Homo sapiens: one gene and its partners. The protein of the gene in region 7 interacts with the protein of the main gene of each other region in a biochemical or structural test. Each region holds a gene or a part of one and is shown on either strand. Other genes may lie near its edges.

Region 1 (4,450 bases), on a different chromosome or scaffold from region 7:
AAGTGATCAAATCAAGCAGATAACTGCTTGACCTCTACTTTATATTAGCGGCCAGAACAGAGAAAATCGATCATATTTTCCTTTCTCTTTGCCACTGCTACCATGGAGAAGCAGTTGGCAAAATAATTTCATTTGACTTCTTGCAATATGAACATTTAGGCCAATTGCTGCTGGTGTGTTATTTCCTCAAAAGGATAAACTCAACCCAAGATGTCTAAGTGTCTAGGGACTTCCTCTTTTCCATTTTAAATGAGAACAGGCCTTTTCTGAGATAAATCACAATAAACCCAAATGCAAGTGCTCTAAAAGGACATACTGGCCTCATAGCTATTTGGAGGAATTTGAGATGTTTTCTTGGCATTGTTGTTGTATCTTTTTGTTTTGCTTTGTGTTTTACCTTTTACACGTGACACTGAATAATACATGCTGGTTTTAGACACTGGGAACTAAGCTTAAAAAAAGTAAGGCGTCCTGGGATTCTCACATGCAAAAGACAGCAGAGGGTACAGATGCACAGCACACCTCAAGTCATGCATCCCTGCTCAGAAGCCTTCAACTGCTCGCCCTTCCAGGGGGAGAATCACACTGAAACATGCTGTGCTGGCATTCAAGACCTTCTATCATCTGGACTTCACTTCCTAGAACTTTTCTGCAGGCAAACTGAACTGCTCAGCAGCCCCTACTTCCCACCCAGTTGCTTCTGTTTACCTCTTTGCCTGAATCACCCTTCACCTCCATCTTTTGGACCAAATTTTACCCAGCATTAAAGACACAACTGAAATATTTCTGGGCCCTTCTCTGTTTTGTCAGCCTACAACTTCTGCCCAAGTTGGAGGACTCTCCAGCATTTACAGTGTATTTCCTTGGCTTTTCTTTTCTTTTTCTTTCTCTCTTTTTTTGAGATGGAGTCTTGTTCTGTCACCCAGGCTGGAGTGCAGTGGTACAATCGTGGCCCATTGCAACCTCTGCCTCCCGGGTTCAAGCGATTCTCCTGCCTCAGCCACCCGAGTAGCTGGGATGGGAAGACCACTTGAGCCCAAGAGTTTGAGACCAGCCTAGGCAACACAGCAAGTCCCCATCTCAAAAAAAAAGGGAAAAAAAAACAATTAATACCACCCCAAAGCCAGATCAGCCATTCATGAAAAATCACAAACTGAATTTTATATATATATATATATCTCTTCAAGTTAGCTTTCATCTACCTCTGATTCTCGTCTGTCTTTATACTAGTCATTAGAACAATGTTGAGTGAAAAATTTAAAAGCCAAAGCTTCATGTGCCCTTAAAATGTCTGCTTGTCCTCTTCACTCCTATCAATGGCACTCCTCCGTCTTAAAGTCTGGGTTGCCAATTCCCAGCGCTAACCATATTCACTCATTTAACTGAGCACCCACTGAGCCCTGGTCTCAGGAAATCATTGTCTAGGTAAAAAGCGAGGCATTTTCATAAGTCACAATGACACCAGACAGAAGGTTTGGAGGTGCTACATCAATGAAACTACATATATGCCAACCAAGATGCACCTGCAATTATATTTAAGAAGATATATCAAGAGGGATAAAGAAGAACAGATTTGGCATCAATTTAGTTCAATCTTTGGCATATGTTACAACGTGCCTATAAATCCTTAGAGGGTAGGGCCTGTGGGTTATTTATGATCATTACATTCCCTGCATGCTTAGCACGGTGTCTTGGGCATAGCAGGGCTTTGACAAATACAGCACTCTGTGCCTCCCAAGCTCTTTTGTAGGCAAGTGAGAGAGAGTGGACTGTAACAGCCACTAACAAGAAGCCGTTTTAATAGATGGAACTCTAAAACGAGGCTGTTTTTGCTGCTTTAAAGGAGACTTAGCCTTATTAAAATCAGGGGATCAGTTATGCCATTCCTGTTGCCCATCTTTGTTCTTTGATAATCTGTGCAATTCTGTAGATGATGGAAGACCATTTAGTACCTGAGAATATCGACTGCTCGTTCCCAGGAAAGGTCTTCAGCAGGCTCATTGTTCATTTGGAGGATCTGATCACCAGGGAAAAGCTTGCCGTGAGCAGAGCCTCCTGTTGGACAGAAAATAAGTAATTGGTGCTCATGCCGGGAGGACCCAGACTCTATGTGTAATAGCGGCACAGTTAAATGGCACCCTGATCCAGTTCCCAGGGGCACTGGCTCACTCCCCCGCCTTCAGTCAGGCTTGGGCTCATGTGGATCTTAATTTTCCTGTTTATAAACCATGGATAATGTACCTATCATCTATCACCAACTTCCAGGGATGTTAGAAGACTGTCCTGAGAAAGAAAACTAGCAGAAACCTTCTAAATCAATAGAGTTGGCCAGTAAATCTACTCCATTCATCTCTAAAAAACTCTGGTGTGTATGTGTAGTAAATAGAAATCAATACATTTTAACGAATCCCAGATTAACACACCTCAATTATGAAAACAAGCACTGGACTTTCCCCACCTGCTCCTCTCCACCCTGGTACAGCCTGTATTTCACAAGGTTCAAATGAAAACAAATCAATGGTTTCTATTACTGTCTGACCAGAAAGTATCCCCAGCTAGGAGCGTGTGGGGTTCAAAGAGGAAGGCTAGCTTAGCCAAATACTTTCACTGCCCCTGAGACCAGCCAGGGAGCCAAGGGTGGGCAACGCCCTAGCCAAGGCCAGTGGGAGCCTGGGGTTTGGAGCGGCAAGTGCACTTGAGGCTTCCTCCCTCCCAGCATCAAAGTAAGGTGCAAAGCCCAAGACAGAATTAGGTGTGCCTTTTCTAACTTCCCAGGTAGGATTTTCTGCATTTTGTTATAGGATAGAGAGATCGGGGAGATTTGGGGCTATTTCCCCTTAAGAAACCAAACTCCTTTCTCATTTCCCAGTCATCCCCTACCTGCTGTGACAGCCACCACTGTAAGGGGAAGGCTCTCAGAAATGTGAAATCCATAGTCCTGGAGGAGGGTGTCTTTGTCTATCTTTACTGTGTGTCGCACAGGGATGAGGGTCTGAGTTGGGTTCCTGGCGGGCCCATCAGCTGCAGCAACTTTAGCCCTGGAAGAGAAGGAGTATGTAAAAAAGAGAAAGAGAAGACTCTAGTTGTTGGTCACGAACTGGGTCAGCCCTAAGCATCATGGAGAAAGATGCAGAACTGAGCAGACACCAATTCTCCTCTTGAGACAAATAAGACACCAACTCCACTAGCAGAACTTAGGACTGTCCTCTAAAAGAGAAGTCGTATTGCCAGGCATTCTTAATGAGCTAATGCTAAATATCTAGAAAGCGCCCAGGAAGTGCTATGGACACACAGAGAAGGGGGAGAGCAGTTTCACCTTTGTAGGGCAGGGAATAGGGAATCAGGGACGCATCTGGTACTTGGAAGAGGTGGCATTTGAGCTGCACTCTGAGACATGTCTAGGGTATACCTATACAGCCCAGATCCTGGCACACAGAAGATATTCAATAACTGCTGCTGAGTGAATCAATGAATGAATGGATGGATGGATGGATGGATGGATGGATGGATGGATGGACGGACTGACAGAAGAACAGGCAGATGGGCATCCCAGGCAGGACATACTGCTGGAGTCAGAGGTACAGGAGAGGAAAAACATGGATGGTGAGCAGAAACAAGGAGTTGTCAGGTTCAGATGTTTGATGACGGATAATTTTATAGCAAGATTTTGTCTTTGGTGATGTTTTTCTTTGTTTCTTTATGATGAATTTTGCTTCCCTTTAAGCTTTGTAACTGCAAGGTTTCCAATATAAAATCTCAGATAGCAAGGACTCCCTCTATATCAACTTTTAAAACATGTATGTTCCTTAAAAGCAGGAAAGTAATATTTTCTATCTCTCAAAGAGAGAAACCACAAAGCGAGTCACAAGTTATTTGTCATTCACCTGTGGCAAATGATTTTTCCCTCTAACAGTCAGTGGTTCTTTCTGAGGAAGGTCAAATAGTGATGGGATGAGGTGTTTATTGTCATTATGAACAACAGAAATGTGAAGGAGTAATAGCTGTCTTGGGACTCTGCGGTTAAGGTCTATCATTTATTCTCATCCATTTACCAAACACTTTCAGGAACCCTGCCTAATGCAATAGGCCCTCACTTATCTGAAAATCATCTCCCTCTCATTTATAATGATCTCCAGTTTCAACAAGGATCCGGAAATATGAAAAACTGTCTCACAGAGCCAAAATGTAAGTGACAAGCACAAGTCCAAAGTCTCGTGTACACTATCCACCAAGGATCCCCCCCAGGCCCTGACTTAGAGCAAATTTAGGATCTGTATGAATAGATGACCCAGCCCACACAACCTAGAAGCAGAGGGAGTCTTTCTTCTAGGCCAGCATGCAGGTAATACTGAGCTGGAGCAGCAGAGAGACCTAATGAGAGGGAAGAAACAGAAAACTGAAAATTCACACTAAATAAAGCCCATAGCTCTTCCTGATTTTTTTTCAATCT
Region 2 (4,450 bases), on a different chromosome or scaffold from region 7:
TAAAAGTACTTCCAAGTTTATCTTTAATTGTACATTATCAAGAGTAAAATTTTGGCAAAATATATTTATCAATCAGTGCTAAAAGAACATTCATAGATGGTAAGAGTGATTAGTCCTCCTACCTCTTATCCACCATGTATTGAAATAAATTTTCACTACTTACGATGTTTACACGTTGACCAAAAATGTCTACATTTGAAATTAGTTTCCACATGTTACATATCATAGATTCTAGATAAGTGTATTGAAATTGAAAAAAAATCTAGCTATTATAAATTTTTAAAGACATTAATTTTTATGTTATCTGACCTGTTTCTCTTTCCCTTTCAGGAGTTGGAATTTTCTAATTTATTTGCTGTTCTTCACTGCATTCATTCCTTCTTTGCTGCCAAGGTAGCTTGTTTGGACCCTCTATTTTTAGGCAATCAAGCTACTGCTTCTACTGCTGCCAGCTCTGCTACCACGAGCAAAGCAAAGTATACAACTTGACATACTGAACTCTTCATTGACACACCCCATGACTGTATAAGCAGGACACATTTACTCATCATTTTAGACCCTAGAGAAACCATAACATCACCAAGTCGACAGTGGAGGCAAATCAAAATTTCGGCAGAAAAAGAAGGTCATGTGGAACCTCAAAAACACTTCTATTCTGGATGACATCTGTGAAATATACTACATGAACAGAACAGCTTGTTCTCACTCAGTTGCTTTGTACCAGTAAGTGTATTGCTTTCACCAAAAGTGGAGACAAAAGAATAAATTATTTGAAGAAGTATGTAAATAACATAAAAATAGTAAGCTACCTATGAATAAAAATACTTATTAAATGATTACTTCTGTATTTTAGATTATTTTGTATGACTAGTACATGTTGGGCAGAGTCATAGGAAAACAAATGCCCTATCTTGTATTATGAGGGACATAAAAGAGTTAAAAACCATAAATCAGCAAGGAGCATGCAAAAAAATCTCATCAAAGAAGGATGCACTTTAATTTGCTGATGTAAATTTGCCCTTGTGTTCTCATCCCATGATTTGACACTGGCATTCCAATTGTTTTTATCTTATTGTAAATATTCCGAAGAACTTCCAAAGGATAATTACATTGACCCATGATAGATACAATGTGAAATGGACTATTCTCCCTTGGATCACTGTTATTGAAATGTCTTATTAGCTGCCAAAGTCAATCAAATATGCCAACAGTGTATTAATTTAATTATGAGTGATGGAAAATTTCATGAACCTCTCATTTCTTCCTTGGTTTGAAAGAGATTTGTATTTTACCTAATAAGATTTATTATCAAATTAAAGTTTCATAAATTTTCAGTGAACCCAAAACCTTTTGTAGAGAAAATAATATAAACAAATATGGTGTGAGAAACAATTCTTTGTAATCCGAAGTCTACTAGTTAATCATGAACTAAAATGTCCCCCGAAAACAGTCCCAAAGCTATTATAGATGTTAATTAAATGACATTTTTTCATTTTAGTACTATTTTATGAGAAACAAAGGTGATATTTAAAGATAAAAGTTAAAATTCTTTAACCTCCCTTGTCATGGAAAGTGATTAAGTAATGCCAACTATGCAGGTTGTTTTAGGTATTTTGTCCTAAGAATGTAAATGTGAAAGGCTGGGAAATTTGAAAGCCTTAGAGGTGTGCAATTTACTCAGATTCCAGGTATTATTCAACTAGTTGTATAACATGGAACACAGTCTCTGTCCTTCAGTACAGCTTTTTTGAGATATTTTAAAAAGTCAGCTGTGTATGTAAAAAAAAAAAAAAATTTTTATTGATACACATGCTCCCAGGTAAACCAAGTATTATGTGTGTCCTTGTGGAGATAACCAAGTATCTAATAAATTGATTCAATTTTTTTTTTCAAATATGTTTTTAAAAATCACTCAAGAAGGAAACAAAGTGATTTCTATAAAGGACAGATTTACTAATTTAAAAAATTAATATCAAGTTGTTTTTATACTCATGATTCATTAATTTATTTTGCATCAGATTAATTTGTAAATACATCAAATTGAAAAGAAAAAGTGAGGGTTTATAATTGTCCCTGGGAAAATGTTAAACTGAATCTAACATACCTTACCCAAAGAACTGTGGCAAATTACAATAAACAGTTTCAGTGTAATGTATTTTGACCGTAAAACTAAGTACACATTTGTAATTAGGATAGAACTTTAGAATTATTGCACACTATATTGATCAAATACAACAGTCATTGTAAAATTGAAACCCACCAAAAGCAGCCTTCAGTAGTAGGCCACTTCTGAACTTATGGAGAAAAAGCAGTGGGATACATCGAACTTAGAATTTTCAGCTGTGGCAAGTGGTTCATTATGGAACTTCTGCTTCCAACCAGAGCTGAATCTCAGTGTGCCCCATATTGGGGTTACATGAATGTGTCCACAATCTGGAAGGCAATATGACATGGGCTAATTATCCATAAGCAAAAGAAAAACGTTTCAACAGTTTACCTACCTGTAATAGAATGATTTAAAAATTGTGAAATTTTGTAAACGTTCCATTTTAGAATTTAAAAAACCTATTAACCATTAGCTATCTTTTTAGTGTTATTATGAAAATTTAGCCTATGCTCATGTGTGTTACGAAGGAAAAGGTGCACAATGAGATATGTATAAATATATATCTCCTCAGAGAATACACACACACCTACATATGTATTTATATGCATACATGGGTGTATATATATATAAATATAATGAAATGCTGACCATTAATTATATTAGAAGAATGTTTTGTGTACATACATTTAATATACTTTAAATTACGTTGTAAAATGTAGCTTGATTAAAAACTTATGACAATACCATTATGAATATTTTTGATACTATTGATAAAAAACATAAGCCGTGATTTTTATTTAACATGATTAGTACAACAGCCAAAAAGTAACAAAATACTATTCTCGTTTTCATCAGTTTAACAATTAGTATTTAATGTTTTCTTTACAATGTGGTGATTAGTCATTGGCATTTGTTATAACTTGGACTACTTGAATGAGAAAGCTTTGAAATGAACAAAAACACTTAAAAATTTCTATCTCTCATATAATTTAGGTTTACATGTAAGAGATTTATTCATAAAATCCTAGTTTGTACATTAAGCACATTTTAACAGCAAAATGCTAATGTGTTAACCCCTCCAGTGCCTTGGTATGTGTGAGCGTGTATGTGTGTTTGGGTGTGTGTCTGTGTATGTGTGTGAGTGTGTAAGTGTTATCATTAAAGGGTTCATTACAGTGTACATAACACAAGCTTAATGGAGAATATTGTAGGTATTTAGGTCAGAGAATGAAGTTCAAAGTCATTTGAAAACTGCTAACTACTATAATAATGTCTTTTGCCTGATAAAGAATAACAATTCATCTAAGTCGAAGTATATTACAGAAAGGGCATTTATAATTTGTTAAAATGCAACAAGTATTTATTTAAAAAATAGTTTAATAGATAGTGTAAGTGTAATGTATATCTGAACACTTATCCAGCTTTTTTAAAATGGGAGGATAATCAGGTAATTATTTCTTGCCCATATTTCAGGCATGTACCAACTTATAATTTTGAAATCTTCGCTCATAAAGCTGTCATTCAGCAAGAAAAAGAAAGCAATTACTTGAAAATAAATGTCAAGTCCATATTAGCCATGCAAAGAGAGAAATTTTCCTTTGGGTGCATTAGTTTATAGATCAACATTTCCCTCATTTACAGTGCTGAAGCTTGATCATGAACTTTGTCTATGTTGAATGCTGGATTTAAGAAAAGCTTGATTTATTACTGAGAAAAATTAATAATCCTAACGATAATTTAGAATTACTGCTAGAAATCAGCAGTGTGGAGAAGCTTTAAAAGCACAAGGATGATCTTGTGCTTAACTTTTTAAGGTAAGTGTAGATGTTCGGATACTAATAACAAAGATTTTGCTACTATTAATATTGCTGTGCTCATAATTTCTCCTTATGAAATTGCTTTATTCATACTTCTAAAATTGTTCTTTATTGTTTATTCTTACTACCGAATACTTTAAAATCATAATGCCACTTATTTGCACATTTGAATTTGCTTTTGAAAATAAAATATTATAAATGTTATATATTTTATACATGTTAAAATGCAGTGAAAAGACAAGAAATATAAAATGTAAATATATTTATTTCATTTTTAATTGTTTTGGTGGATGTTTGTAAAATGTAAATTAATATCTGTGACAAAAATTTGTCACTTCATTCTTTCAGTTCATTAATGTACTACTAATGAAACCATACTTTTTTAAATGAAGCATACTGGAAAATAAAAACAAATACTTTTTACTAGATTTGGGTTTTCATTTCTTTGGGTTTGATTTGTAAGGATTTTACATATGTTTAAAACAAGATCCTGAGAGATTTAACTTCAATGAAAAGGTTTAAGATA
Region 3 (4,450 bases), on a different chromosome or scaffold from region 7:
AGTCCTAGATGGCATCTTCTTCCAATTGAAGGTTAGTCTACACTGAAAATCTGCGGTTTAGTGTAGTCATCTTCATCAGTGATCTTAGCTAGGTCTTCTGGATAATTTGCTGCAGCTTTTCCATTAGCACTTGCCGCTTTACCTTGTACTTTCATGTTATGGAGACAGCATCTTTCCTTAAGCCTCACAAACTAATCCCTGCTAGCTTCAAACGTTTTATCTGCAGCTTCCTCACTTTTCTCAGCCTTCGCAGAATTTAAGAGAGTTAAGAGTCTTGCTCTGGATTAGGCTTTGGCTTAACGGAATGTTGTGGCTGGTTTGATCTTCTATCCAGACCACTCAAACTTTCTCCATATCAGTAATAAGGCTGTTTCACTTTCTTATCGTTTGTGTGTTTCCTGGAGTAGCACTTTTAATTTCCTTCAAGAGCTTTTCCTTTGTAGTCACAGTTTGGCGAACTGTTTGGCACAAGAGGTCTAGTTTTTGGCCTATCTCAGCTTTCAACATGCCTTCCGTACCAAACTTAATTATTTCTGGCTTTCAATTTAAAGTGAGAGATGTACAACTCTTCCTTTAACTTGAACACTTGCAGGCTACTGTAGGGTTATTAATTGGCCTGATTTCAATATTGTTATGTCTCAAGGAACAGGGGAGCCTGAGGAAAGGGAGAGACATGAGGGAATGGCTAGTTGGTACAGCAGTCAGAACACACACAACATTTATCAATTAAGTTTGCCATCTTATATGTGTGGTTCATGACAGCCCAAAACAATTGCAATAGTAACATCAAACAATTCCAATAGTAACATCAAAGATTACTGATCACACATCACCATAACAGATATAATAATAATAATGAAAAATATGACACAGAAACACGAAATGAGCACATGCTGTTGAAAAAATGGTGCTGACAGATTGCTTGATGTGGAGTTGGCACAAACCTTCAATTTGTAGAAAGTGCAGTATCTATAAAGCACCAATAAACCAGAGTGCAATGAAACAAGGTATCCTTAAATCTACTATAAACCAAGGAGGTTTAATACCAGGGGATTTGCCCTTGAAGAGTTCATAAATGAGACACAGATCAAAACTGGACTCAATTATAATACCATCTATACCAGTCAGCCATTGCCACAACAATGCTGCATAACACAGTGTCATACAAGAATAAGCATCTGTTTTCATGCTCACAGGTTTGCCTGATGGTGCTGGTCCATGTGAATCTAGCTTCTAGGACCAACAGGTTAAACTAGGCAGTTCTTCATATAGCAATGTTAAGAGCTTTTTGCTTTTTTACATTCTTTTTTAGAAACGTACAATACCTTAAAGGCATTCTCCTACCAAAAACTTGTACCAAAACAGATACCCTGTGACTTCTGTCCATATTCCACTGGCCAAAGCAAGTTACTTGGCCAAGCCCAACAGCAATGGGGCAAAGAGGTACCCTCTACCTCTAGGAAGTAGAACTATAATGTCACATGGAAAAGGCTTGGATTCAGGGAAGATTTAAGAATTGGGAACAAAATTACAATCTACCACACAATGAAGAAATGTTGTGAAAAGAGCAGGGCATGACATGTCCAGCACAGATAGGGTACACAGTGGCACTAAACTTCCCAGCTTGCCTCACAGTTACATAGGGTCAGAGTTCTGCCTAATGGAATGAGGGTAGAATGGTATACTTTGATTCTGGGCATAGCCCTTAAAAACCTGTCACCCAATCTTCTACCATTCTCTCCCCTCATCTGTCAGCTGAACACTGATGTGCAGGAAACCTTCGATAGCATACTGAAGATGAGATAGTCCTATCTTACAGGTTCTCAGAATGGCTGAGCATATCAGAGCTCCCCCACACCATCAGGAATGCCTGTTTTGTGTATCAAGCAAACAAGAGATGGGCCACAAAAATTGAGGGATTGATCTGTTAAAGCAGTGAAATTATCTTCGCTAATAAAAGATGTCAGTCGAGCTATTTAACCCAGGATTGGGAGGTTGGAGAAGGTGACATGGAACAACCTTAGATTAAAAGCTGAAATATAAAAGACAGATAGGAATTTTTCAGGTGTAAAGGAGGCAAGATAAAGATTGTTCCAGACAAAATGAAGAGTTTATGCAAAGGCTCAGGGTGTGGCACTTTTTAGGACTTCTAAAAAATTCAACATGGTTAGGGGTAGATGTGTGTGTGTGTGTGTCTCTGTATGTGTGTGTATACACGTGTGTGTTTGGTGTTGAGTAGGAAGTTAAGGCTGGAAAGGAGGAATAACAAGTTCAGAGAAATATGGTTCTCTTTTTCTTTTCTTTTTTTTTTTGAGACAGAGTCTCGTTCTGTTGCCCAGGTTGGAAGCACAGTGGCGCAATCTCAGCTCACTGCAAGCTTCGCCTCCCAGATTCAAGCTATTCTCCTGCCTCAGCCTCCCGAGTAGCTGAGACTACAAGCGCCCGCCACCACGCCCGGCTAATTTTTTTGTATTTTTAGTAGAGACGGGGTTTGACCGTGTTAGCCAGGATGGTCTCGATCTCCTGACCTTGTGATCCGCCCACCTCGGCCTCCCAAAGTGTTGGGATTACAGGCGTGAGCCACCGCGCCCAGCCCGAGAAATACAGTTCTCAAAGGAACCAAGTGAATCAGGCCAAACCCAAAAGGGTAAGGATAAAGAATATGGATTTTCCCCTCAAAAGTATGTAGACGGAGGGGACAGGGAGGATCCAATTTGCACTTTACAAAGCTTCTAAGTTAACCTACAAGTGGTATTGTAAGTGCTGACAGTTTAAGTCCCCCAGAGCGGGGCTGGCAAGGGTGACTGTGTTCAGGGTGAATCTCCAACCATATCCATCCTTCCCCCTGCTAGTAAAGAAGGCTGACACCCAGACTGCCCCAAAGGGAAATTTGAGTACTGGGCAGAGAGATCAAAGAAGAACAGTAAAATACCCATGTAAAGGGCAGAGAGTAAATATTTTAGGCTTTGCAAGCCATGTGGTTTCTGTCACAGCTATCCAACTCTCCCAAGAGCAGCCACAGTATACAAACAAAAGGGCATGGCTGTGTTTAAATAAAACTTTATTTATAAAAATGGTCATAAAGCTTTCTAAAATAAGTAAACACATCAGATGGGTTAAGTTTGCCAGCCCTGGCCCTAGGCCATGAAGCAGGACATCGCCCTGAGCCACAATTCAGTTGGGCATGTTTGGGATTTACACCAAAACTAATTCCAGACTCCACCACTGTATAGCTGAGACTGCTAACTGCTCCTGTACTAGGGTAAAGACCGGTGACTTGGATCGTGAACTTCAAAAGAGACAAATATCCAGGACTCCAGTTACAGGAACCATTGTAAAATCACCATGGTCAGTATGTTATCCAATGTTGAATCAATACAACAGCCTTGAATCAGCCAGATGGCCGCGTGTTCTCCCCCACACCAGTCTCTGACCAGATAAATAACTGTGCCAGTTCAATAGAAAAATACACTCATTCCTACATTCATTAGGAAAATTTTACCATTAATTTTATGAACTTTTGCCTACTGCTTTCTTTGAACCTCATCTTTGTCAGGTAATCATGTTCTTATTTTCAATTAAGCAAATCTCATAAAACTTGTGAAGCCTATAAAAAATAACCAAAATAAAAATTAAAACCCTATAGTAAATTGTAATTGCAGGGAAATTACTTTTCATTTTCAAACTTTGGAAACATTTCTTTCATAGAAATGATTGTGTTTTCCTAGCTTTCAAAAAAGACTTTCTAAAATAAAAACTTACTGACATCTATAAAAACCCATTTCAATATCATCATAACTTTGCTTATTGAGCTTAAAGCAGTAAAACAGAGACTCCTTGGAAATACAAGTTGATGACTTTTTAACCATCAATCACCAAATATATATATTATATTTTATATATATAATATATATATACTTCAAATGTAAAAACAGAAATAAAAGTTTATTCTCTGAGACCAAGTCCAAGAGCAGGCTATTTACTTTTAACATGTACATTGTATTCCGTTATATTCAATAAAGAAGTACTGACATGGTAATTGTTCAGCTAAACAAATATGACAATTTGTTTGCAACAAATGTTAGAATGAATTGTATATGACTTCACTCACTAATTATTTAGTATAGACTATTTATCTTATGCCAAATTCTGTAAACCATACTTGAAAATATATTTCTGAAAGAACAGTTCTGGCAGAAAACCCTTCTCATCTCTTTGCCAGGAAAAAAAAAAAAATGGGAATGTTAACTTTGTTATCTAAAACTAAGGCTTAGATTTCTTCAAGATAATTTTCAGAGCTTAAGTACATAATGACCTAAATTACTCAGAAGCAAGGCAGCATACTTTTGATATATGTTTTTGCTGTAAAGAACTAAAGGTAGTCTATGATTTCTCATTATAATGCTCTCAGTCAAATCATAGGAAAGTTAGATTAAACTCAACTCCAAAT
Region 4 (4,450 bases), on a different chromosome or scaffold from region 7:
CATGTCACCCCAGCGTGGTTGGTTGTATAAATCGCTAGCATGCCCGGCTCATGGCAAATGCCGCAGGATCACTGCTGACCTCATGGGCTCGGGGCTGGCTGGATTGGGGCCAGTGCCTCGCTCTGACCACCTGACCAGGTCTCTGCCGAGCACCGAGGACCCAGGTGGCCCAGGCCACCTGTGGAGAGCTGTATGTCCGTTACCTACCCTCCTGGGAGTCCGACACCCGAGGCCTTCCCTCGGAGGCTCATCTGGTACATCTGAGCCATCTCCCTCAGGGTCTCTGCCGAGTACAGGCCAATGGGGTTGTTATATTGCCTCGGCTGGCTCGAGCCCGGCAGGGCTTTTGGGCCGAGTAGGTCCCGGGCCCCCTCTGGGCTGGTCTTGGCCCTCAGGCTGGCCCGCGGAGGGCCAGGGTCAGAGGCCTCGGCGAGTGAGGAGAAGGCGGAGGGCCGGGAGAAGGCAGGGCTAAAGGTGGGCCTGAGCTCCGGGGTGCCTGGGGTGCCTGGGCTGGCCCTCGCCTCAGGGCTGGGGCTGGGTGCCACCAGGCTGCCGTTCGTGTCCAGAGCGGGGTCCTGGCACAGGGCAGGCCATGCAGGGGAGAGAGAAGAGAGCGGTTAGAGGCCACACGCGTCCCAGCGCTCCTGCGTGGACCTGAAACAGATGTGTTAGCGCGAGCCCCGCAGCCTGAAGCCCAGAGCGCCTGGGCGCAGCACTTGGAGGGGAGGACACTGGTGGAGGAGCAGGCAGGCACATGGCTCCTGGCCTGGCGTGAGGCTGGCATCCAGCTGGGCAGAGTGCCAAGCCCTGCATGGAAGCCAAGCCAAGCTTCCTGCCCCCAGGGCCCGAGGAAGTGGGTGTAGGGGTCAGGGGATGGCCCGTTCTGTGTCTGTTCCCCCTGCCCCTGAGAGTGGGTGCCCAGTGGGCACAGCCCAGCCTCCTGCTCCACTGACCCCACACTGCCAGTGAGATGAAGTTCCTGGGCTGGTTGTGGGCAGGTGGTGGGGAGGTGAGGAGGGAAGCTGAGGAATTGGGTAGCTCACATTTGGGCCCCTCAGTCTACCTCTGCAAGCATCTCCCAAGCAGCCCTCCACCCACTTCCCCAGTCTGTGACCTACCCCACCCCTGTCAGCCTCTTTTTCTCCCCTCTCCCCACTGCCCTGCCCAATCTGCCCCATTGGACAGGTGGGGTCACTATCAGTTCACATAGGGGGAGAAGTTGAGCAGGGAGCCCTCGGGGGTTGAGCTGCTTGGCGGGGCCTTGGGAAGGGCCTAGGCAGTGGTGAGGTCTGGAGCCAGGGCTTGGCCTCCCTTCTCCCCTGTGCCTGCCATTGCCAGCACGTCCTAAGGGCTACAGGGGAATGCACTTGGGAGGGGCAGGTGGGGAAGTGGAAACCAGAGGGAGAGATCTGGGTGAGGCCAGCAGGCCCCTCCACACCTGGAGGTCCTCGTCAAGCTGGGCCTCAGCCACAGTCACCCAGCGGTGGCCCCCTTGGCAAATGAAGGTCAGAGCCTGGACGCTCGTCCCCTGCCTGGCCAGGAGGGTGACCCCTCTCCTGGGAACACTGCTGCCCAAGCTGGCTTCCTATCAGCCCAGCCACGAGGCATAGCGGAGGTGGCTTGCACCCAGGCAGGCATTCATTCCCACATCCAGTGTTCAACAGGGGCTTGAAAGTCTCTCCCAAGGGGCTGCCTCACTTCCCCAGGGTCAGCTGCAGCAGGGGCAGGGATGGGGCAGGGCTGATCCCACGGCCTCATCCCAGTTGGGCCAGCCAAAGACCAGGCAGGCTGGCCAGGGCCAGCACTCCAGGAACCAGGGCTGAGTGGACCCCGCCGCCACAGTCAGCACCTACCTTCTGGTGAGGGATCACCGGCAGAGGGGTCTGGACTGGAGGTGCTGTCGTGGAGATGGGAATGGGACGCTTTGATCTGTAGAAACCAGAAATGAGACCAGGTGAGGAAGTTGCCCCTGGGGCCAGAAGCTCCTGCCTGGGCAGGGCTGGTGAGGAGAGAGCAAGAGAGAGCCAGAGTCAGCTCTCAGAGATAGCTGAGTCAGAGGGCCCCAGATCCACTGTCCACCCCATGGGCTGGATCTCCCCAAGAAGGCCCTGGGCCCGACGAGGATGGAGAAATCATGGCCCCTGGGCATTTTGGTCAGAATCCATGGGCCCCTGCTACGTCACTGGGGGCTGCCTGGGCAAAGTGGAAGTAGGTAAGACCTGCCTTCCAGGACCAATGGCCCACGTACGGGCAGCACCAGGACCACCATCTCTGCCTTAACTGTAAAGTGAGGCAGTAATGTCTGCCTCTAGGTGCTTGACAGCGACTTGGGCCTGTTCATTCCTCTGGCCCAGGGCTGTCCTTATCTTCCTGCACAGTTTTGTAGCCCAGGGCGGGGCCCACTCAATTGCTATGGGACAATCCCTCTTTTGGCCCCTGCCCCATGCCCACACCCAAACCTCCGCCCCCTGCTCTGGAGAGCTCCCACCTACTTCTGCAGGGTGAGGCTCAAGTTGTAGCTGGCAGACTTGATCTTGTTCTGGGCTTCCAGGTGGGTCATGGTGTCTGTGTTGACGCCGTCAATGGCCACCACGAGGTCACCCTGGCTGAGCTGGGACTGGGCTGCCTTGCTGCCTGGTGTGATCTGATTGGATAGTGGAGGTGGGGGGTGAGCATAAGGAAGGTGGTCCTGAGGAAAGGCCAGTCCTTGGGGAAGAGTCACCCGGGAGTATTCAACAGAAGCCGTCATTGTGTTTTTCATTCGCTACGGCCAGTACCAGCTGCTAACCAAGCCTAGTTCCTCTTTCCGGCACATGACTACCACATTGCTTAGAGCTTTGTGTCTGACTGCAGCCTTGGGACTAGCTCTGGCCAACTGAATGAGGGTGGAAGCAATGTATGCTCCTTCCAGGTCTGCCTCTAGCAACCATCCTTGTGATCCTGCACACTCTCTGCTTGTTGACTGACTGAATGCAGGGCATGGAGAGGAGGAGAGATGATTAAGGAGCACTGTATTGGACGTTGCATGAATGAGAAACTTTTGTTGTTCTGAGCCATTAAGGTTTGGAGGCTGTTGGACATGGTGGCTCATGCCTATAATCCCAGCACTTTGGGAGGCTGAGGTAGGAGAATTGCTTGAGGCCAGGAGTTTGAGGCCAGCCCAGGCAAAGGAGCCCAGACCCTGTTTCTACAAAAATAAAAATATTTGGCAGGGTGTGGTGGTGCATGGCTGTAGTTCTAGCTACTCAGGAGGCAGGTGAGAGGGTCACTCCAGCCTAGGAGTTTGAGGTTACAATAAACTATGATCGCTCACCACTGAACTCCAGCGTGGGTGACAGAGGGAGACTCTGTCTCTTAAAAATTTGCAGGCATCTGCTGGGCGTGGTGGCTCACGCCTGTAATCCCAGCACTTTGGGAGGCCAAGGTGGGTGGATCACAAGGTCAGGAGTTCGAGATCAGCCTGGCCAATATGGTGAAACCCTGTCTCTACTAAAAATACAAAAATTAGCCATGCCTGGTGGTGGGCGCCTGTAGTCCCAGCTACTTGGGAGGCTGAGGCAGGAGAATTGCTTGAACCCAGGAGGCAGAGGTTGCCGTGAGCTGAGATTGCACCACTGCACTCCAGCCTGGGTGACAGAGGGAGACTCGGTCTTAAAAAAAAAAAAAAAAAGGGTGGCCAGGTGTGGTGGCTCATGCCTGTAATCCCAGCACTTTGGGAGGCTGAGGCAGGCAGATCACCTGAGGTCAGCCTGGCCAACATGGTGAAACCCCGTCTGTACCAAAATTACAAAAAAAATTAGCTGGACATGGTGGCATGTGCCTGTAGTCTCAGCTACTCGGGAGGCTGAAGCAGGAGAATCGCTTGAACTCTTGATTGAACCCAGGAGGTGGAGGTTGTAGTGAGCTAAGATTATGCCACTGCACTCCAGCCTGGGTGAGAGCGAGACTCTGTCTAAAAACAAACAAACAAACAAAAAACTGCAGGCTATTTGTAACCTTGATTAGCCTCTTATAACCCCTGCACCCTGCAAAGCTATGGAGCACTTTTCAGACTCCAGGAGAAAAGGGAGATGCAGCAGCTAAGACACAGCAGCATCCCAGAGACACTGCCAGGCTGAAGGGCAGGATAAATGCACCCACTCAAAAGCATCTTAGTGCCAGGTGCTTTGTGCTACCTGGCAGATGTGGAGAGAGTGAGGTAGCCGACAACCCTGCCTGGATGAGCAAACTCAGCTGGGAAATGGGGCAGGGCTTAGGGTTCTGTAGTTGATGTCATACCTCCAGAAGGCAGGGTGCAGGTGCGGGGGCCAGTTCCCAAACCCTGAGCCCCGATAATACCACAGAATGTTACAGTCTGGAGGCCCCATCTTCAGTGTAACCACACAGAATGCCACTGCAACTCCATCCCGGGAATTCCCCATGGAATCTCAGGAAGGCCACACCTCCTGGG
Region 5 (4,450 bases), on a different chromosome or scaffold from region 7:
GGCCGCTGATTGACAGACTATGCAGAGTGTGTGTGTGTGTGTGTGTGTGTGTGTGTGTGTGTGTGTGTGTGTGTATGTATGCTTGCGTGCACGCACGCACACACACGTGTGTTCATCCACCAATCTAGCCATCTGTTCCTCTGTTTTCCCAGTGGGTTTGGATCAGAAGCAAGGAGAAGCCTGTTTGATTGGGTGGTCCTGCCCTCAGAGCAGAGCTCCCTTGGCAGTTAGGAGCCCACAGCCTGAGCAGAACTACTGTACTCATTCATCTTTACAAGGCATCATATGCTCCCACAAGAAGAACAAGTAAAAGGAGACTAAAATCTCACAAATATCCCTTTATCTGCAGTTCTCTATTTCCCTCCAATCCAGGGCTGGCAGACCTGGCCCAGACACCTATCCAGGGCTGATATTCAGTGGATTGGGTGGGGAGGGGAAAGTTGGTGGGGGAGGCAATTTAGCAGGCAGAGGCCCTGGCCATGACTCTCCCATCAACCTGTGGACTCCTCACTTAGTTTCCTTATACCAGCTGCAACAGGGCTCCAGCTGGCATCAAAGTGCTGTGGTAGCTCTTGCCATACTCTGGCACAGGTGTGACCTTCACTGAGATGATTCCCAAGTGCTCAGAAGAGTTTTCAAACTGATTCTACCAGGGAAGTTGAAAGATGTTTCCTCACTCTTACCAGCTCTCAGAAGCCTTGGGGGACTTGAAACAGACCAGACACAGGCATCGCCTGCCTCCGGCCTCCCTGTTGGGGGATGTAATACTCAGCACCCCAGCTTGGCTATCATCTCAACTGCATTCTGCAGCCAGATTCCTCATTGCTCACTCTTTCAGGTCATGGTACTGAAGGCCCCTGTGCGCATCTACTTTACTTGGAAAGGATAACTGATTATAATGCCCAATGTTATCTTAGCTCCAGAAACTCTGCCACCTTAAGGTCCTGAGGGCATGAGGCAAAGAAAGTGTAAGTATTGAGGCTAAGAGGAAGGAGCGAGTGAGACAAAAACAAGTCAAGAAAATCTACTTGGTGGTTTATCAGCCACACCGATGCCTTGAGAGCCTTTTGGATTTGACCCTCCTCTCTATGCCCACTGCCACCACCCTTATCACCTCTCACTTAGATTGCTGTAGTATCTTATAGGCTGGTCTCAAGTCTCTCCCTATTCCAATCAATTCTGCTTCCAACTGCATAGCTAACCATCCTGAATCACTATGCATAATTGTCCGACAGCCCCCAAGGTTTACCCAAGTCCAAACTTCTTCTGACATCAGAGACTCTTCAAATCTGGGAGTCCCATACCCAGCCAATCATTTTTTCCCCACTGTGCCTGCATATACACCCTCTCCTCTAGTCAGACTTCTTTCTGACCCTTTCTTGATAACACCCTGACCATTTCCATCTCCAGCCTTTTCCCTATGCTGTGCCTCCCCCTCAGAAGCCTGTTCCTTTTCTAGTCAACAATCTCAATCTCACATGTTACTCAAAACATAACGCAGGTTCAACTTCTTCTGGGAAGACTTCTCCCCTCATTCCAGCCCACACTCTCATTCTCTCTGTGCTTTGAACCCCTACAGTGCTTACTGTTTAGAGCAAAAAAATGTGGCACATAATTGTTTTCCATCTTGTATTATTCTTAGTTACTTCATATGAATGAGTATTATTTTTCTGTTAAATTACGGATTTCCAGAGAGCAGGGCCTTTGCTTTCCCCTTCTCACCATAACATTAGTACAGGGCTAGATCCTGGAGTGGTCAATAGACTTCTCTTCCCATGCCTTAACTCCAGTATGAAGGAAGGATGAGATAAGTGAAGCCCGCTAAGGATCTCCGCTGTTCATTCCCTCACCTTTCTCAAAAGATGTTCCAGACGGCAGAGGAGCTGAGGCTGCCGAGTGAGACATAGGCAGCCAATCAGCTGTCAGATCCTAGCTTTCAGAACACTCCCACCTCCTAAGGTTTTCTGGGCAATCAATAACGCTACTTAAGTGATCAATCTGAGGCACAATGGGCTGTAGGGGCCAGTGTTTGATTAACTTGAGAGAATAAATGTACGCTGGAAGAGAAAGAGCAGGGAGGGGGGAGCAGAAGAAAAAGCAAGAAGAAAGATGAGCTAGGGGAAGGAAGAGAGAGAAAAGCCTTTATGAAGGAGGGTATGATGGGATGGAGCTGAGAGTAGTTCTCACCTAATCCAATTCAACGAGTTAAGCAAGTTCCTACTGAGGTGTCGAAATAATCTTGGGGCTTTGTCAGAGTCCAGTGAATATCCCAGGGCTTTTAGGCAATTTTTGACTTTGGCAAGAACACTGTTGCCATGGTCCACTGAGGGTCCACACAGCCTCCATATTGGGTGGAAGAGTGGGTGTGGGATAGAGACTTCAGCCAATATCAAGGAAAGACATGGATCTTGAGCTATGCTCATTGGCTGTGTCTAGAGAAATCCCAGGTTCTGGCATCCTACACTCTCCTACCCAAGCCTGATGACTCAGAAACCCATGATGATATGGGACAGTAGGCTCATCTGCAAGGGAGATATCAGCATTACCTTCTCTCTATCCAGAATTGTATATACTATCCTCCCTCTCAAGGCCCTGGAGCTGGAAATTTAACTATTTGCAGTTAACAAAAAATACGGAGTCCCTTTCCAAATGTTTTCCAAACATTATCAAATGTTTAGCTATACCACGAATCAAATTTTTTTCTGGGAAAGATAGTATTATCTGGAAAAAAAAAACAGAGCAGATGGCCTCTTACTGTGAGAAAGTGAGAAAGTTCCTCCTTTAATCTAACCATGATACCTGCTGCTCTCATTAAAAACTCATCCTTCTCATAGGATGACATTGGTACCCTCCTGGTTATGCAGGCTCAAAGCCTTAGAATCATCTTTGACTCTTCCTTCTTCCTCACCCCACGCATTCAATTGGTAGGTAAATCAGGTTTCCTCTACCTCCAAATACATTCACCCATCTTCTTTCTGTCCCCAACCAGCTATGGTAACAACCGGCTAACTGGTCTTCCTGCCTCCAGAATGATCTTGTTTTAATCATTATGCCAAAGCGAGAAAAAAAGAAAAATGAGCTTGAATCTAATCAAGCCCAGAGCTAACTTCCATTTATAGAAAATATAGGGGATAGGTGAACAAGCTAACTGGCAATAAGAGGACAAACCAGAATGTGGGAATTGTGCAGAGCAAACAACCTGATTTCTGTGACAAGTCAAAGAGAGAGGGCTGTTGAAAGGGCCTTTAGAGACATAACAACCAAATGTCACGTGTGGAACTTTTTTGGAACGTCCGTCAAACAAGCCAACTGTAAAACATGTTTTGAGACAATTGAGGGCATATGATTATGGACAGGGTAATGGATAATACAAAGGCATTATTGTTACTTTTGTTAGGTGTATTAGCAGTTCTGTAGTTATGTTAGAAAATGTCCAGTTTTTAAGAAATGCATAGAGAAATATTAGGAATAAAATGATGTGATCGATGTTTGGCATGATAGGTGAAGCAAACATGGCAAAGTCCTGATAACTAGTTAATGTGGATAATGAGTATGTGGGGGTTACTATACTATTTTCTCTAATTTTTTTGAGGTTGAAAATATTTATAAGAAAAAGTAAAGACAGGCTGGGCACAGTGGCTCATGCCTGTCATCCCAGTGCTTTGGGAGGCTGAAGTGGGAGGATTGCTTGAGCCCAGGAATTGGAGACCAGGTTAGGCAACACAACAAGACCCTGTCTCTATGAAACACTAAAAATTAGCTAGCAACTCGAGAGGCTAAGGTGGGAGGATCACTTGAGCCCAGGAGTTTGAGGCTACAGTGAGCCATGATCATGCCACTGTACTCATCTGGGCAACGGAGTGAGACCCTGTCTCTAAAAATAATAATAATAATAATAATAGTCATCCACTATACCCACTCTATCTTCCTAGCCTTATCTTCCATTCCTGCCCTATTTCTCTATGACACAGCCACCCTACGTACTTGCTCAAGTTTTTTCCAGTCTGAACTTCATCCCTTCACTTATTCATGAAGTCATTCATTTGAGTAGTCAACAAATATTTATTAAGTATCTCTTCTATGCACTAGGCACTGTAAATTCAAAGATGACTGAGAAGGAGAAGGACAGGAAGCCTCCTTCATCTTTTGTATTATCCACAGCAACTAGCACAGTGCCTTGTACATAATTGGTGCTCAATAAATGTTTTATGAACTAATGTGCAGGGGGAGATGCGATAGAATCCCTGTCTAATATGAATCAACAAGTATTTGGTCCAATTCAACATATGCCTATTGAGTACCTACTGTGTATTAGGCACATATGCTATGGGGATTTAAAAAAATTAAAAAAAAAGATGTACTTGCCAAATGTATTTTTATTTATTTATTTATTTAGAGACAGGGTCTCACTCTGTCACCCAGGCTGGAGTGCACTGGTGCGACCACAGCT
Region 6 (4,450 bases), on a different chromosome or scaffold from region 7:
TCACTCTGATTTGCTAAAGAAAGAAGAGAACTGAGAAAATGATTCTTGTTAAAATTCATGAAGAATTCCTATGCTTTCTAATTAATAACTGCACAGGTCCTTCTGGGACAGACTTCATAATATTCCAGGCATCAAAGTGCATGAGCCCAACCAGAGGTTTCCCATTAATAGCAAGAATTTCATCTCCAGCTTCTATTATTCCAGCTTGTTCAGCCGCACCACCTACGAGAATAAACACAGAATAATTAATAGCTTGGCAGTTTCATAGTATTCAAAAATCCTAAGTAAACTAAAAACTTTTAAGTGATAAAAATATCTAAATAATATATTATTGAATAGAGAAATATTTCTTAGAACACAAAAAGCATATATCCATAAAAGTAAACTGGTCTACAGAAAACAGTGCAACTCTAGCCCTCCTGCCGCCCCTCCAAACATAATCTGTAAGATAAAAATAAACTGACAAGGGGAAGATACTCTCTATGTATTTAATCAACAAATGGTTAACATCCAGACTAAAGAGCTACAAGTCAACAAGAATAACACAAAATAAAGTTGGGGTAAGGAAATCAACAGCTGAACTCCAAACAGCCAGTAAACACAGAAAAGCAGGTTCAACTTTTTTTGTTGTTGTTGAGACGGCCTCACACTGTCACCCAGGCTGGAGTGCAGTGGTACAGTTTTGGCTCGCTGCAGCCTCCGCCTCACTGGGCTCAAGCGATCCTCTCACCTCAGCCTTCAGAGTAGCTGCTACCACAGGCATACACCACCATGCACAGCTTTTTTTTTTATATTTTTGGTAGAGATGGGGTCTTGCCATGTTGCCCAGGCTGTCAGCTTCTAATTGTTAACAGATTCTGGCTGATATATGCAAGTTCTGAGAATCAGTGATTATGTGCTCATTAGTGACCATGGGGACTACTTACTTACAGAGTTTAGCATGTTCACATTATAGCTTTGTCTAGCTTTGTATGAGCTTTGAAAAAAATGCAAGTGTAAACCCTCCATTTACGTTCTCACACATATACTTCTAAAGGTACACCAGCTATGGAGGCATCTTATGGAAAAAAAATGGCATTGAAAGAAAAAGTCCCAAGTGTGAAAAAAATTTTCTCAGAAATTTTGATTAGACCTCAAAAGACTGAGCAGATGTATCGATTTCATCCTAAATTACTGAAAGTCGTTATTGAAATTATTGAAATAAATATTATGTGATAAAAATACAGCTTGGAAGAAATCCAGCCCACACAAGGACAAAAACATTTTCTGTGGTAAATGATAGAGGCAGTTAGTTACATTAGAAGAGAGACCTCACCAATATCAGCCCTGTAGTGGGCCCCAGGAAAATGATTTGGTCCCTAGTCCTTGCTTTTCTTGAGATAGATACATTTTTGGAAGGACCAAAGAACCAATTATATTTGTGTTAACTTAGTACCCAATGTCCTATTCTAGCATATTAACCGAAGGCCTTCAGGTTATGTGAAACAAAAGAATTTTGTGAGTGTTCACCTGGGCTTCAGGACATGGGAGGTTCCAGGCAACCAGAACAGCCTGACGCACACTGAAGGAGCAATCAGACTGGGTTTGGTCTCAAATCTGTGACTTCAGGCAAGTTACAGATTTCTCCAAACTCCAGTTTTCTCATCTGCAAAATGGTGATGATGATATCTGTCTTGTTATCTTACTAGGTTGTTAGAAGGACTGAATGAGATGAAGTAGAGGAAAGTCTTCTAGGACAGGGGTCCTCAACCCTTGGGCCACAGACTGGTGGCAGGAGGGCTGCACAGCAGGTGAGCAGTGGGTGAGTGAGCAAAGCTTCCTCTGTTCACAGCCTCTCACCGTCACTCACACTACCACCTGAGCTCTGCCTCCTGTCAGATCAGCAGCAGCATTAGATTCTCACGTGAGTGTGAACCCTATTGTGAACTGCATATGCGAGGGATCTAGGTTGCATGTTCCTTATGAGAATCTAATGCCTGATGATCTGTCATTGTCTCCCATCACCCCCAGATGGGATGCCTGGTTGCAAGAAAACAAGCTCAGGGCTCCCACAGATTCTACGTGATGGTGAGTTGTATAATTATTTCATTATATATTAAAATGTAATAACAGAAATAAAGTATACAATAAATGTAATGCACCTGAATCATCCTGAAACCATCCCCCACCCAAACCCTCACCATGGAAAAATTGTCTTCCACAAAACCAGTCCCTGGTGCCAAAAAGCTTGGGGACTGCTCCTTTAGGAAACATTCAGTGTTGTACAAAGCAGAGGTTTGCCAGCTTTTGGACTTTTTACACAAGAGAGAAATAAATTCTCTCGTTTAAACCACTGCTATTTTGGATTTCCTATTACATGAGGCCAAACTGAATCTTAACAGATTTGAGCAGGATATGTCTCTCTCTCCATTTACTCATAGATTTTTTAAAATTGTCCTTTAGAAAGCTTTTATGCTTTTTCCCAAAAAGGTCTTGCATAGCTTTTGTTGAACACATTCTTAGGTTCCTTATGCTTACCATGAATTGGTGTCACACAGTGCACAATCTGCATTTGGCTTTTTTTCATTCAACACTGTTTTTGAGCCGGTCCCAGTTAGTATATAGAGAGAGGTGTAATTTATTTTTTCAACTGCTATTTAGCTTTCCTTTAGATGAATATATTTTATTCTGCTACAGATAGAAATTTAAATTGTTTCATAGCTTCCATTTTCGTAAGCACTGCTAAAATTTTCCTTAAAGATTAACCAGTAGATACTTGCACGAGAAAAAAAATGTGTTTTCCTTTCTCCACATCCTTGCCAACACATCATAGTATGAGATTTTTTATTTTTGGCCAACTTGATAGATTAAAAGAATGATTTATAATATTTCTAATTTTCATCCAATACATTTAAGTTTGAGCATCTTCCTGTGTTTCTTGGCCACCTAGGTTTTAACTTCTGTCCATTTGCTATTGCTTTCTTTACCCAAACTTTCTCTCTTGTATTTTTCTTACTGAATTATATAGTTCTTCATATATTCTGGATTGATTGATTGATTGATTGATTGTTTTTTTTTGAGACAAGGTCTCCCTCTGTCACCCAGGCTGGAGTGCTGTGGCACAACCATGGCTCACCACAGCCTCGACCTCCTGGGCTCAAATGATTCTCCCACCTCAGCTCCTGAGTAGCTGGGACTATAGGTGCGTGCCGCCACACCCGAGTAATTTCTGTATTTTTTGTAGAGGTGGAGTCTCGTCATGTGGCCCAGACCGGTCTTGAACTCCTGGGCTCAAGTGATCTGCCCACCTTGGTCTCCAAAGTGCTGGGATTACAGGTGTGAGCCACGGTACCCTGCCTATTCTGGATATCAACCCTTTGTTTATTAAATATATTGTAAATATCTTCTAATCACTTACTTTTGAATTTGCTTATAAATTTTGCCATATAATGAACATTTTATATGTTTTTTTTTTTTTTTTTTTTTTTTTTTTTTAGATGGAGCCTTCTCTGACCCCAGGCTGGAGTGCAGTGGTGTGGTCCTGGCTCACTGCAACCTCCGCCTCCTGGGTTCAAGTGACTCTCCTGCCTCAGCCTCCTGAGTAGCTGGGATTACAGGCATGCACCACAATGCCCAGCTAACATATTTTTAGTAGAGACGGGGTTTCACCATGTTGGCCAGGCTGGTCTCTAACTCCTGACCTCAGGTGGTCCACCCACCTTGGGCTGCTTAGGAGGCTGAGACACCAGATTCACTTGAACCTGGGAGGCAGAGATTGCAGTGAGCAGAGATTGTGACACTGCACTCCAGCCTGGGTGACAGAGCTAGACCCTGTTAAAAAAAAAAAAATTCTTTATTATTCAAATGCTTGTTCTGTAATAACCTTACTCAAAGAAATCAGTCTTGCTATATTGTTTTCTAATGCTTGAGCTTAAAGACACAGGAAAACAAAATGAACAGAAAACCTGTACTCATGAAATTTGTAAATATGAAATACGAGATAAGGTGAATCCTGACCTCAAGTGATTCGCCTGCCTTAGCCTCCCAAAGTGCCGGGATTACAAGCATGAGCCACCATGCCCGGCCAGATAATGACATCTTTAGTCTCACTAGTTTCCAAAGGTGGGATCTGCCGTATCATACTCAGAAATACTTGAATGGCTTTCCCCAAGAACAAAACCACAGGCTTGCACACGAGAGCATCTAAAGCGCTAGTCTGTGGGACTGACAATTTTCTTCTTCTCTATCCATTTCCATAGCAGTTTTCACAGATTTGTGGCCAGATGCTAGAGACAAAGGCTGAGAAGTTGTCCAGGACGTCATATTCTTGCTTTGCTGGAGGCAGATCTGAAGGATGTCATCTCTCCTGTGGCTTCTTCTAGTGTGGGGTCCCGAAGCCTGGCTTCCCCAGCCGATGTGCTGCTTTAGTCAGCGTCTGCCCTGGTCCTTCGGTTCGCAGGCTCACACGCTT
Region 7 (4,923 bases):
TATTAAATACTTAGGAATAGATCTGTCAAAAGTTATGAAAGATCTGTAAAATATTAAAAAGAACTATAAAATATTGGTGAGAGATATTAAGGAAGACCTAAATAAATTGAGAAAAATATTGTGTTCATGGATCAGATGACTCAATATTGCTTTAACATGTCAATTCTCCCCATATTGATCTACAGATTCAATCCAATCCCAATCAAAATCTCAGATAGCTTCTTTGTAGAAGTTGACAAACTGATTCAGAAATTGATATGGAAATGCAATGGGCTTAGAATAACCAAAACAACAAAATTAGAGGTCTCACACTACCTGATTTCAAGCCTTATTATAAAGCTAGAGTAATTAAGTGTGGTGTTGGACTAAAGAGACAAGTAGATCAATGAAAAAATAGAGAGGCCAGAAATAGACCCACACATATATGGATAACTGATTTTACAAAGCTTAAAGGAAACTCAGAGGAGAAAGAAATGGTACAGAACAACTGAATATCCACATACCAAAAAAAAAAAAAAAAAAAAATTAACTTTACCCTAAATCTCAGAGTTGTATGGGTAGAAACAAATTAATTCCAGATGGATCAGAGACCAAAATGTAAAACCTAAAAATCCTGGAGGAAATCTTGGTGAACTTATTTTAGGCAAAGATTTCTCAAATATCATACAAAAAGCATGATCCATAAAAGAGCCAATTGATAAACTGTGCTTCATCAAAACTTAAAACTGATGCTATTCAAAAAATATTAACAGAAAGAAAACTGAAGGCACAATATATTTGCAAAGCATATATCTTCTTCCTCTTCTTTTTTTTTTTTTTTGCAACAGGGTCCTGCTCTGTTGCCCAGGCTGGAGTACCGTGGCATGATCACCACCCACTGCAAGCTCCACCTTCCAGGCTCAAGCAATCCTCCCACCTCAGCCTCCCAAGTAGCTGGGACCACAGGCACACACCACCACATCCGACAATTTTTTGTATTCTGGGTGGAGAAAGGGTGTCACCGCGTTGCCCAGGCTGGTCTCCAGCTCCTAGACTCAAGCAATCCACCCACCTTGGCCTACAAAAAGTGCAGGAATTACACGCTTGGGCCATGGCACCTGGCCACAAAGCATATATTTGACAAAAGACTAGTGTCCAGAATGGACGAAAGATTTGTACAGATACTTCACCAAAGAATATATACAGATGGCATATAAGCACATTACAAAATGCTAAATATTATTAGTCAGTATGGAAATGCAAATTGAAACCACAGTGAGATACACAGTGAGTTGGTAAGGATGTGGAGGAACCGGAACTCTCATGTACTCATGTTAGGAATGCAAAATGATACAGCCACTCTGAAAAGTAGTGTGGGTTTTTTTAAACATTAAATGTACATCTACCATGAGAGAGGGGGAAAAAAGCATATGTCCATATAAAGACGTGTGTACATGAATGTTCTCAGCTTTACTTGTAACAGTAAAAACCTGGAATAACCCAAATGCCCATGAACTGGTGATTGGATAAACAAACTGTGGTATATACATACAATGGAATATTATTCAGCAACAAAAATTAACTATTGATACACACAGCAATAAAGATAAATCTCAAAATAAAAGCTTAGTGAAACAACTCTGACAAAAACAAGGACATTCTGTATGATTCCATTTAAATAAATATCTAGAAAATGCAAACTAATCTCTAGTAACAGCTGACCAGTGGAGGGGGCATTGGGAGAGAGGCTTACCAACGGGCAGGAGGAAACTTTTGGGGTTTAGATGTAATAAACATATTATTTTGATTGCAGTGATAGTTCCACAGCTGTATTCATTTAACAAGCCTTATCAAATTATATCCTTTAAATATTTGCTGTTTATGTCAGTTATACCTCAATAAAGCTGTTTTGTTTTGTTTTGTTTTGTTTTGTTTTGAGACAAAGTCTCGCTTTGTCACCCAGGCTGGAGTGCAGTGGCGCAATCTCGGCTCACTGCAACCTCCGCCTCCTGGGTTCATGGGTTCACGCGATTCTCCTGACTCGGCCTCCCAAGTAGCTGGGATTAAAGGCGCACACCACCATGCCCAGCTAATTTTTGTATTTGTAGTAGAGACAGGGTTTCACCTTGTTGGCCAGGCTGGTCTCCAACTCCTGATCTCAGGTGATCCACCTGCCTCAACCTCCCAAAGTTTTAGGATTACAGGCCTAAGCTGCGCCTGGCCAAAAAGAAAGCTGTTTTTTTAAAACTATCTGCACTCCCTACTTGGGAGGGTTGGACTCAAGTTCCCACATCTCTTTCCTCTTACGGTTATATTAAGGGCTTAGTCATACATCCCTAAATTTCATATATCCCAACAGGGACTTGGGCTGGGACAGGAAGCCCTCTTCCTCCACCTCAACTACCACTTAGCCACCCACCATTTTCTCAAACCTCTTCCTTTCCCCACCGGACAGCTTAAACCAAGTCACACGTCTCATTGGTCTCAACAGAAATGAGGTCCCAACTCCTCATTTCCCAAGATATTTCCATGAACACAGCAATATCCTTTCCTACCCTGATTACCCCGCACCCTCCATTTCGGGTCCTTCTCACCCTGATCAGTGAGAATTGTTCTAGCAAGCAAACCTTAAATAGACCTCGTACCCTTTCTAGATTGCAAAGTAGATAAAAATCCAACTTTCCGTTAATTCAGGGATTAATTACTGAGCATCACTTATTTCTTGGGCAGTGGTTCTCAAAATGTGGTCCCAGGACCAACAGCTTCAGGATCACCTGAGAACCTGGGCTGCCACCGCCCCCTCCCCCACTACTAAATCAGCAACTCCGGAGTTGTGGGGCAGAAGTCAGTATTTTAACAAGGCCTCCAGGTGATTCTGATGCGCGCTACTCTTCTGGGGGTGTGAAAAACCAGAGAGGACAGGAAGAAAGTTAGAATTAAAGCATACCTACGAATCAGATAAGCGATAGGGGGAGGGGTGGTTATTTAAAAAACGATAACTAATTAAGAACTTGTATGTAGTAAGAAAACCTACCCTGCCCCAGAGAGCTTTCCCGAAAGATAATGGATTCCGACATTCACCTCAAGAACCGGCAGACAGAGCAGCAAAGGATCTGTCGCTGGCCAAGCAGGTCCCTGGCTAAGGCACTGCTAGGGACAGCTCGCGGCGGTTCGGGGGTTAATTCTCGGCAGCCCTCCGTCACCCGGTGCCCCACCCCCGCCCTGCGCCTGCGCGGTGAAGCGCCATAGAGCTGAGCACTCCTCCCAGATTCCTAGAGCGGACAGGGCGATGGCAGGTTCGCCGGGTGTGAGGCTTCACAGCGGTCCGGTGACCAAGTCGAGGTAAGGGTGATGTCGGCTCGCGGATAGCAGAGGAGTTCCGGGTGATCTTGCCTAACGAGCAGGAAACTGTGCATGGTTTCTCGAGTCCTTGGAGAGTGAAGGCCCCCGGGGTCGCTCCCGGGCACGGAGAGACGATTGGTTCACGGCCTAGTGTTCGGTTTGTTCCCAGTCAGCCCTTGCTGGCCTTGGGTTCAACCGAATGAACGCCAGAAACTCTGTGGGGTGGGGGGAGTCACCAACCGTGGTGCATCCATACGAATCAGCCTACCGTACTGGGAAAGAGCCACCTGAATTTGTGAATGTTGTAAAAGCAAAAGGAAGAAAAATGATCAGTAGTGTCATTTTTGGATAGGAAGGGCAGCGAATAACATAGTGTTAACCACTAGAATTCACTGTAAAATTCCCCTCTCTGCGTTATCTTTCCAGTTATACCTTTTTTTGGTAGCATTAACCCCTAATTTTGTTTGAACATCTCTAGACTTGGAATGGGGAATGTGTGTCTTAAGTGGGTTAATCCCTGGCTCTTGGATGATGGGGAGGAAGCCTAATACATTCTGAGAGAAAAGCAACTGGAAGTCAAATGAGATTTTTTGTTTTCTCCTTCTTTTATATCTTGAGGATTTTTCTGGTGGTCTAGTCTCAGAGATTACATCTGTAGTCAGCACAATGATTCCCTTCCAAGCCCAGTGGTGCCCAGTTGCCTCCAGGTCCCAGACCTTTATGTGGACAAGAAAAGCTTACAGAGGAAATGGTAATTCTCCACTTGCACACTGAGGTGTCCAGTTGCAGCCCATGGAGATCCAGTTCAATTATGAATCTCAGGAACACCACCTTCTGTCAGGTGAGAGGCAGGGTATTATATCTTTCTTAGTGGCTTTGGCGGGGTGGGGAGGATGAGGGGGTGTCACTCTATGCTAGTGTCTTCAAATGATCCCCCTTAACTCTGTTAGGCAGTATTACCTCTTTAGTGTACCAAGCATAGTCACATGACTTTATTTCAAAATCTGGCGATCAAATTCTCATGCAGCTCTCTCCACTTTTTTAAGACCCCAAAGTCATTCATTTTTCCCTGTATAATGACCTCATTGCTAATCTGTCAGTTTTGGTCATTTTTCTTATCTACTGTAGGGGCATAGTTAAAAGTTCTGGAGTCTGACAACCTAGATTCAAACAGTAGTTTTGTCACTTAACTGGCTCCAGTAAGTTACTCATATATTTTACGATTCTGTTTCCTCACTTTTCAAGTGCATAGTACTTCATACCTTGAAGTTATTTTGAGATTTGTATCTATGTATTACTCCAGAATAAAGAACCCCAAAATTTAGTGACCTAAAACATCAGACTTCTTAAACCACATTATTTCTTATGATTCTGTAGGTCATCAACTTGAGCTGGGTTCACCTGGGCATTTTTTTTTCTCTTGGTCTTTTCTGGGGTCATTTTGCAGTCATCTCAAGGCTGACTCTACTGGGGCCAGGGTCTAAGATGGTTTCAATCACGTTGTCTCAATGTCAAACTGTTAGTGCCGGCTATGGCTTGAGTCCTCATGTCTTCAGCAGGTGACGCTGGACTTTTTCACAGGACAGCTTGTTTCCAGTCAGA

What was found.
Region 1: the proteins of ZSCAN30 (region 7) and FRMPD1 interact in a test that uses a peptide from one of them, tested with the Homo sapiens proteins (one large-scale study listed by IntAct).
Region 2: the proteins of ZSCAN30 (region 7) and SNTG1 interact in a test that uses a peptide from one of them, tested with the Homo sapiens proteins (one large-scale study listed by IntAct).
Region 3: the proteins of ZSCAN30 (region 7) and FRMPD4 interact in a test that uses a peptide from one of them, tested with the Homo sapiens proteins (one large-scale study listed by IntAct).
Region 4: the proteins of ZSCAN30 (region 7) and LDB3 interact in a test that uses a peptide from one of them, tested with the Homo sapiens proteins (one large-scale study listed by IntAct).
Region 5: the proteins of ZSCAN30 (region 7) and FRMPD3 interact in a test that uses a peptide from one of them, tested with the Homo sapiens proteins (one large-scale study listed by IntAct).
Region 6: the proteins of ZSCAN30 (region 7) and PDZD2 interact in a test that uses a peptide from one of them, tested with the Homo sapiens proteins (one large-scale study listed by IntAct).

Annotation. Positions count from the first base shown.
Region 1 is NC_000009.12:37,706,004-37,710,453, reverse strand, and holds part of FRMPD1 (FERM and PDZ domain-containing protein 1), read right to left. Parts: intron 3,039-4,450; coding exon 2,881-3,038; intron 2,056-2,880; coding exon 1,953-2,055; intron 1-1,952. UniProt on the Homo sapiens protein: Stabilizes membrane-bound GPSM1, and thereby promotes its interaction with GNAI1.
Region 2 is NC_000008.11:50,792,341-50,796,790, forward strand, and holds the end of SNTG1 (gamma-1-syntrophin), read left to right. Parts: intron 1-330; coding exon 331-489; 3' UTR 490-4,352; downstream 4,353-4,450. UniProt on the Homo sapiens protein: Adapter protein that binds to and probably organizes the subcellular localization of a variety of proteins. May link various receptors to the actin cytoskeleton and the dystrophin glycoprotein complex.
Region 3 is NC_000023.11:12,144,227-12,148,676, reverse strand, and holds part of FRMPD4 (FERM and PDZ domain-containing protein 4), read right to left. Parts: intron 1-4,450. UniProt on the Homo sapiens protein: Positive regulator of dendritic spine morphogenesis and density. Required for the maintenance of excitatory synaptic transmission. Binds phosphatidylinositol 4,5-bisphosphate.
Region 4 is NC_000010.11:86,677,561-86,682,010, reverse strand, and holds part of LDB3 (LIM domain-binding protein 3), read right to left. Parts: intron 2,645-4,450; coding exon 2,493-2,644; intron 1,930-2,492; coding exon 1,854-1,929; intron 576-1,853; coding exon 208-575; intron 1-207. UniProt on the Homo sapiens protein: May function as an adapter in striated muscle to couple protein kinase C-mediated signaling via its LIM domains to the cytoskeleton.
Region 5 is NC_000023.11:107,455,509-107,459,958, reverse strand, and holds part of FRMPD3 (FERM and PDZ domain-containing protein 3), read right to left. Parts: intron 1-4,450.
Region 6 is NC_000005.10:32,103,741-32,108,190, reverse strand, and holds part of PDZD2 (PDZ domain-containing protein 2), read right to left. Parts: exon of another isoform or gene 3,476-4,450; intron 2,068-3,475; exon of another isoform or gene 2,011-2,067; intron 1,904-2,010; exon of another isoform or gene 223-1,903; coding exon 56-222; 3' UTR 1-55.
Region 7 is NC_000018.10:35,287,071-35,291,993, forward strand, and holds the start of ZSCAN30 (zinc finger and SCAN domain-containing protein 30), read right to left. Parts: upstream 3,160-4,923; 5' UTR 3,057-3,159; coding exon of another isoform or gene 3,014-3,056; intron 1-3,013. UniProt on the Homo sapiens protein: May be involved in transcriptional regulation.